2 linked regions of the Homo sapiens genome follow. The protein of the gene in region 2 purifies or fractionates together with the protein of the main gene of each other region. This does not show direct contact. Each region holds a gene or a part of one and is shown on either strand. Other genes may lie near its edges. The genes, in order: TLN2 and DCUN1D5.

What was found.
Region 1: the proteins of DCUN1D5 (region 2) and TLN2 fractionate together in Homo sapiens (co-fractionation; one large-scale study listed by BioGRID). This does not show direct contact.

Annotation. Positions count from the first base shown.
Region 1 is NC_000015.10:62,388,990-62,393,528, forward strand, and holds the start of TLN2 (talin-2), read left to right. Parts: upstream 1-1,560; 5' UTR 1,561-1,696; intron 1,697-4,539. UniProt on the Homo sapiens protein: As a major component of focal adhesion plaques that links integrin to the actin cytoskeleton, may play an important role in cell adhesion. Recruits PIP5K1C to focal adhesion plaques and strongly activates its kinase activity.
Region 2 is NC_000011.10:103,085,645-103,089,456, forward strand, and holds part of DCUN1D5 (DCN1-like protein 5), read right to left. Parts: intron 3,675-3,812; coding exon 3,583-3,674; intron 1-3,582. UniProt on the Homo sapiens protein: Contributes to the neddylation of all cullins by transferring NEDD8 from N-terminally acetylated NEDD8-conjugating E2s enzyme to different cullin C-terminal domain-RBX complexes which is necessary for the activation of cullin-RING E3 ubiquitin ligases (CRLs).

The sequences.
Region 1 (4,539 bases), on a different chromosome or scaffold from region 2:
TGCCCTGCAATTTTTAGGACTTTCTCAAGTTGCCAAGTAATTGGTTCTCTCACTGTGCATTGATAATGTATACTTTGTTAGCTTTACAGTTTATATTCTGCAATAAGTTACAAAGTTGTACCCTAAGGTTATCTTTGCTGCTATGATACATACAGTCCGGTTCATCAGCCTGGTTAAGGACAGGGTATTGTTCTCACAGAATGTCCAGCCTTATCCAATGTTCCAACGGACTTATTCAAAATAATTTCAATTTACAAAATCAATTCAGTCTCCGGTTTATGGTGACAGCAGTTTCTTTCTCTGAGAAACACTAAAAAGTTGCCAGCAGTTCCATTTGAGTAACTGAATAGATTTGCTACCTATTTCCTGGTCCATTCTGTATTGGGATGGAAATAATGTCGTCTTTCCTTTTTTTTTTCTTTTTTGAGACAGAGTCCCGCTCTGTCATCCAGGCTGGAGTGCAGTGGTAGGATCACCGCTCATGCAGCCCCCGAGCTCCCGGGCTCAAGCGATCCTCCCACCATTCTCCCCAGTAACTGGGACTACAGGCATGCGCCCCCACACCCGGCTGATTTTTAATTTTTTTTGTAGAGATAAGGTCTCGCTATATTGCCCAGGCCGATCTTAAACTCCTTGGGCTTGAGATCTTCCTGCTTTGGCCTCCCAAAGTACTAGGAGTAAAGGGGTCATGGCTAATTCTTGTTTTTTTAAATTACTAATGTGTCCCTTACAGATAAATAAAAAAGTAAAATTACTCACAATTCCACCAATCACTGAGAGACTTATTGGTGTTTATCTATCCAGTCTTTTCTGCCTTTCTCCATAAATCACAGTTTTTAAAAACGGGACCATACGGTACATAGTGTTTTGTCTCCTCACCCCCTTGAATAACCTTCACATTGTTCCATGGTATTTACAGTATTTACTAATAATGACTGTAAATGTAAGAGGTATATAACTGACTTTATTCAGGGCATGGCAAGCAGGAGTGAATTATTTTCTTCTTATCAACACAGCACGCCCCTACCGCCACTCATCCCTATAGTCGTTCTCTAAATACCTAAGTGACACCTGACCAGCAAGGTTTCAGGGTCCTTGTGCTGAAAGGAGCAGGCTCGCCTGGGGTCACGGCCCTCCGCTTCGCAGCAAGACCCCACCGCCCACCACGGCCCTCCAGTTAGCCACAGCTCGCTTCCCCCAGGACCGGGCCAGAGGTCCCGAGAGGGCACTCTGCGGACCTAGGGGCCCCAGCCTACAAGACGCTGTGTCCTGCAGTCATCCCCTTTACACAGCAGAGCCCCAATTCTGGGAAGCCGGGGTCACCCCGAGCCTCCCTTCCCCGTGACAGCTCGGCCGGTGCATCACCTTCCCTCGCGGACCCTTTCAGCATCACCACGCGTGGGAGGAAACCCAGGACGGGCGCCTGAGCCTCGGTGGCGGCCCACCCCGGTGCCGCGCGGCGCCGCGGCCGGACCGGCGCCGCGCCGTCCCCGAATGATGACGCGCTTCCTGCCCTCCCAGCGCTCTCGGGCAGTGCGCTCGCGCTCGCCCTCGGCTCTTGTTCCGCGCCCGGAGCCAGCGGCGGCGGCAGCGGCTGAGGCGGCTGCGGGAGCGGAGTGGTCGCCCAGCGCGCGGGGGGACGCGGGCTGCACTCCCGGGCAGGCGCTCTGCAATGAGACAGTAAATGCATCCCCCGGTAAGGCGCACGGCTCACTCGGGTTTTCCTCTTCCTCCAGCTGCATGCACGTTGCATGAATTTCTCGTGTCTTTTCCCTCCCCTCTCCAGAAGGAAAATGTGGGGTTTTTTTTCCTCCCTTTTGCTTCTCGTGAGTGATGCCAATGCAGGAAAAACCCGTAAAGCTCCCAGATTTGATGGTCTAGGAGGGCTTCTTGCAGGAAAATAAAAATAAAATGAAATTAATGCACCTGTCTATTGCACATGTATGTTTCACTGCACCGGACCCGGGCGCAGCGGTTTGCAAACAGCCTCGCAGTCGGCGCCAGAGAGCGGATTCCTGGCCGTGGGCAGCCGGTCCCCTCCGGGGCTCTCGCTGGGTTTCCGGTAACTGGGCTTTGAAAAGCGGCCCCGCCTGCATAGAGTGTCCCCTCGACCCCAGCCGGGCCCCCGCGCCAGAAGAGTTGGCGCTGGAGGAGCAGCTTCATTCCAGCACTGGCCGCCGGGACTCCAGCGCCACTTTGCAAACAAGTCTCCCGCCGAGGCTCTGGGCTAAGACAGCCCGCCAGTGCGGAGTTCCTTCTCCGGTGCCGGACACTCAGACCTGCCGATCCCACGACTGCCCTTTACTTGGCAATCTCGCCACGGGCGAACTGCTGGCCGCTGAGCGACGGGGGCAGTGCCGGGCCGAGAGCGGGGCCAGGCTTTGCATCCAGTGCGGCTGGCCTCACACAGACTCAGCGGCTCCCTCTCCTTCCTCGGTCCCACGAGCTGAAATTTTGCGCCCATTGGAAGCTGGAGGGACCTGGAGACGAGTATTTCGGGATCCCTGAGGGGACCGAGGAACGACTTTCGAGGGCGCCATATTTTCAGTGGGTCTTGACTGCGGAGGGGAGGGGGCGAGCAGTTTCTGGGTCCCGGGGAGAGCCCCGCGCCCCAGTCGGAGAGGCCTGATCGGTTGTCGCCGGGAAAGTTTGCGCGCCGAGGCAGGCGCGGAGGCGGCCGCACAAGGCGCGCACGACTGCTGTCCCCGCAAGGGCGCGCGGACTACAGCGCGTCGCCACGCCAGCCGGCGGGGCTTGGGAACGAGAGCCGCCGTCACGGACAGCGTGCTGGGCTTGCCGCCTTCCTCTGTCCCGCCTGGACCCGGCCTTGGGGCTCCGAGGCTCAGGGAACACGCCCCTCTTCCCCGCAGCTACCGCTGCCCGGGTGCTCAGCCGGAGCCGTGCGCTGGGCGGCGTCCCGGGGCTGGGCGCCGAGTGTAGAGCGTTCTCCCGGTGCCCGGGCTCGCCTGGGTGCTCCGAGGGGCGCAGTAGCTCACTTCCTGGGGGAGAGGAGGCGCCTTGGTTCGTGGATCAGGACCAGGGCCTGGCCTGTGGTCGCCCCGAGGCCGCCGAACAGCCTGAGCTTCCAGTCGCCTCTTTGGCTTTAGCGGCGACAGCAGTAGCGCCCGCGGCTGCGTGTTCTGCTCTCGCAGCTCGTAGAGGCGAGGAAAGGAGGGCGTTTCCAGAAGTTGGGGCTTCAGGTGACGCGTGGGGAAACTTGGATTCTTGCTGTCCTTGAAGAGCTGGGACAACTTAGGCCAGAATTCCTGTGTCTCATAGTGAAAACTTCTGGTTCTTTCCAGAAGATGAGAGAGGAATGAACTGAAGTGTTGGCGTTGTCAAAGACATAATTAAAGACGGTTGGGTAGGGATGATGTCTTGGAGAAGTGGTCCCCAAAATACACGTAAATTGCCCTGGTGCTGTAAGTACCACTTACTTTTCCATTAATAATACCTGGGTGTGTTAAGCTGTGGCATTGTAAGGTTGCACGCTGACCTCCCTTCTCCAGAGCTTGGAGGCAGCGACCTCTCTGGAGTGAGGGGGAAGCGGGAGTGGGGAATCTTTACTTTTGAAGTAGACTGTGACCTCTGCTTTGTGATGGGACAGGGCACGGGCGTGTTTGCCAACCTACAGGCAGCCAATTGCAGGAACGTGTTCTCCTTGGAGTGTTACCGAAATGATGTCATAGTATTGAGGTTTTGTCGGCACTTCCGGTCTTCTTCACTGAAGAGGCTAGAAGGGACCACAGAAACCTCTGGGGTTGGGGGTTAGGTGTGCAGAGGGAGGGGAGAGGCTTTCCTGTGGGAGATGTGCCTGGAGATGTTAGGTGTTAGGCAGCTCTTTCCCTGATTCATTTCATGAAGCGCCTGCAAAAGTGACTCCGATATGAATGTCAGCCAAGATTTTACCTACCTTGATTGCTTATTTGGGACCTCTATGCAAAATCAGAGGATGGCGGTGGGTGTGACAAGTGGTCTTGAGAGAAGAGGGATGCCTACACGAATGCCTTTTTTTTTTCATTGAGCACTAGAATAGTGGAAAACACCCAGAGCCCAAGATATATTTTTCCAAAATTAGCATAGCTAATTTAGAAGAGAAATCAGTTGCAGAAAGCCTCAATCCGTTTTAAGTTTCCAGTCTTAGAGGGAGCACCTTAATCACAGAAACAGGTCTCTTCATATTGGGGAAGCCACTGGTTTCTCTCTGCCTTTGTAACCATTTAAGTTATCAGGGAGATTCCAAAGAGTATTAGAGGGTCTCTCTTTTTGGCATTGATGTGGAGCTTCTACCTCGAAAGAGAAAGCGAACTTTTAACAACTTGACCCTGTTGAATGAGTTACTAGGGATATTCTGTACAGGCATAGGCTATATATGTGTTTTGAACTCATCTACTGCTGACTCATTCAGGTTTTTCCAAACACTGTTCCCTAGAGTATTTTTAAGTGAAATTAGGGTTTAGGAAGAGGTGAGTATGTTATTTTCTAGTCAATATCTGTCTTTTCTCTCTCAAAATTAACCTGATTTCCCCTCCTTCACCC
Region 2 (3,812 bases):
GGTCTGTAACTAATGTGCTTTCCCCGGACTGCAAAATGTTAATCCTTCCAATACCATTGCTTCCAATCTTTCTAATAAAACTACTCTCTGGGTAAAACCTCTGGAGCTAAATTTAATTAACTCTTTTGGACAACTAGGTTTCCACTCAATTGAAGAAGCTATAGAAATGATTTTGTTCATACTATGAGTTCACTCTACTCCACCAGCTAGGTACTATATTAGGACTATGCAATTCCAACCTTATTTTTTGACTCTATGAGACTTTAAAACTGCCCTTTCACTTTCCATGTTTTCAATTACCATAGGCCAGTATATTACTGAATCATTAATTTAAATATCACTCAAGAATGAGGTCTTGTGAAAGAACAAAACCAACAGCCTTATCACACATAATACCATAGTAACAAGTTTAGTGATATTTTCAAAACTAAAAGAAAAACACCATCAATTTCCTGATTTCTTTATAACCATAAAGGAATGTTCCTAGCTATATCTGCAAGGCCTAATACCATGCCAGCCATAACAGATGCTTAGGGGGAAAAAAAAAAAATTCTCAGTGACACAGCACCTTCAACATGAGCTACGTAAGAGTCATTAATTTTGGAACACTGTAAAAAACACACAACCAGTAAATCTGATGCTGTAATGCTATTACTGTTTTAATAATAATAACATTTGAGTTCTGACTATATACCAGGTATTGTGCTAAGGGCTTTACATGTATTATTCTCAGTAGGCAAAATTATTGGCTTCATTTTAATACGGACATACCCATTTCAAGACAGAACAGTTACTGTTTATTTGGCAAACAAATGGTTCCTCCCTAATCAGGTCTCTGCACAAAGTGGTCTCCACAGAGAGGCCTTCCCTAATCACTCTATCTGAAAGTCCATCTAACCCTTCTTTCTTCTCTATTCCTGAACCTCACCATATTTATTATCCTTATAACTCCCCACAATCTGTACTTATCTTGCCTACATACCTGTTTACTGACTGTCTTCCTCACCAGAAGGCAAGTCCCCCAAAGGCAGGGATCTTGTCTGACTTGCTCAGCACTATATATCCAGCACTCAGCACAGTGCCTGACTCAAAACAAGTGCTCAATATTTATTGAATGGATGACAGAAATTAACCAAGAGTACCAATATTTTCTTTGCAAAAGTGAAAATTAGCTTAAATAAAAAATAAACATAAAATAATATCTATTATAATAAAATGTTTATAACTATATATAAACATTATAAAATTTAAATAAAAAATACATAAAAGCATAGTAGTTAAAAGCATGGACTTTAGAATCAGAAGGACCTGGGTTTGAATCCTGGCTCTTGTCACTATATGATCTTGGGCAAATTAATTAATCTAAGTCTCAGTTTTCTCATCTATAAAATGAGGGTATGGCCAAGCACAGCAGCTCATGCCTGTAATCCCACCACTCTGGGAAGCTGAGGCAATTAGATCACTTGAGCCCAGGAGTTGGAGACCAGTTTGGGCAACATCGTGAAACCCCATTTCTTTTTTTCTTTTTCTTTTTTTTTTTTTTTGAGGCAGAGTCTCACTCTGTCACCCAGGCTGGAGTGCAGTGGTGTTATCTCGGCTCACTGTGAGCTCCGCCTCCTGGGTTCACGCCATTCTCCTGCCCCAGCCTCCCAAGTAGCTGGGACTACAGGCGCACACCACCACGCCCGGCTAATTGTTTGTGTTTTTGGTAGAGAGAGTGTTTCACCATGTTAACCAGGATGGTCTCGATCTCCTGACCTCGTGATCTGCCTACCTTGGCCTCCCAAAGTGCTGAGATTACAGACGTGAGCCACCACACCCGGCTGAAACCCCATTTCTACAAAAAATTTAAAAAATTAGCCAGGCGTGGTGGCACATGCCTATATTCCCACCTACTAGAAAGGCTGAGGTGGGAGGATGGCCTGAGCCCAGGAGCTCAAGGCTGCAGTGAGCCATGATCACAGCACTGCGCTCCAGCGTGGGCGACACAGTGAGACCCTGTCTCAAAAAATAAAGTCGTAGTGGGAGGTGGTGATAATACTACCTACTTAATAGAACAGTCACAAGAAAAAATAATATACCTGGGACAATTCCTGGAATAATGCAATTATTATGTTGGCTATTAAAAATGCTAATATAGTAAACAAATGTTTAATTAGAATCTTACACTACCTAGGAAAGTTCCTAGTTGAGGCAAATATTTTCTATTTCTATTGTATCTAGTAACCTTTATAAGTGAAATAAGATGGGTGACCTTTTGATTATATATCATTCATACCAGTAAAACTGGCATTTGGGATAATGGGTCAACATTTTAAATGGAGGTCAGTAAGAAATGAATTCCCTTCATTTAAATTGGGTTAGTGGTTGTCTTGGGATGCCAGTAATAGCATTTATTTCTGGTCTAGAAAGAATCTGTTCTGTTACTAAACAATTTTAAAATTGTACTTTGGGATCACTCAGCTGATTCCAACAGTAAAGTTACTGCCCCCCTTTCAAAATAGTCTCACATTCCATACAATTAGCCTAAACTTATACCTCAAGTTCAAAGTATACTACTTTAGACCTTAATGTGGATGAGCACTAAATATAAGGCAATAGCTACATATACACTTCCATTTTAAACAAACATTTTGAGAATGATAGTGATTAAAAGAAGGAGAAAAAAAAGTGAAGCAGGTTAAAAAAAAGGAAAAGGAAAAGAAAAAAGCTTTAAAATCAATAACTCCAAAAAAACAAAACTATTCTAAGGGGAAAAAAATTCCATATATATTTATGAGATAGTATAAGTGTTCTTTTGCATATATTTGCTTAACTCTTCAGCCCCATCTCTGGCTGGCTTTGACTTTCGCCTCTAAAACACAACCCCATCCTGGGCCTAGGGCTCTTCATCCACCAGTTACAAGATTTAGCTGAGGTTAAGTTAGCTCCTCTAGAAAACTCCCATGACACTTTAAAAGCTGGGTTATATATCCCTCCTATGAACTCTCACAGTGTATCTTCTGAATATAGTATTTATCACACTGTATTAATATCAGTCTATTTATTTTCTTACTATTGCATCTCTAGTAGAAGTGGATGGCTAAATGATAATTGTTAAAAAGTAAATGTGTTGTACAATTATAACTGAGGGGTTTAAATCTTTTACTATGTCTCCCCAAAAGTTTCAGAAAATGTTAGTTCAGAAAAATTTCAAAAAGAGAATATTGAATAGAAATGTTTTATTATGTACTTTGTGTTTTCCACAATATCAAATACAAAAATGTTTTATTGTGTACCTTTTATTTTCCAGAATACTACTTTAGCCAATAGATGTAAATAAATGAATCTTTGTTTACACGTTTTATTAATAGTAAATGAGTTCTTCCCTCCCAGTAAATATATACCGAATATATATTTAAAGAAATATCAGCCTAAATTGGCAACAAATTTTTAGTCTACCCACAATCTTCAGTCCTGACCCTCATCCCAGTACACAGCACTAACACATAGCAGGCCTGTAACAGATAATTTGTTAAATGAATAAGGCAAATAAACTTTTTAAAGCATATGACTAGTATCTTCTTATATTAATTTCATTACCTGCATATTCATAAAACCAAGCCAGGCACTTCTTGCTTGAAAAATGTTCCTCTCCACTTATTAGTCTAGCAGGGGGTTGGGATCTGCAATAGCTTAGAAAACACACAGACGCCTAAGATTTTTATCACATCTCAACTCTTAGAGAAAAACTAAGTTCAAAATTAACAACTTCCATTCACATTAAACAAAGGTTTTTTTTTTCTTCGGTTGGCATTGTTGGAAAAAAACTG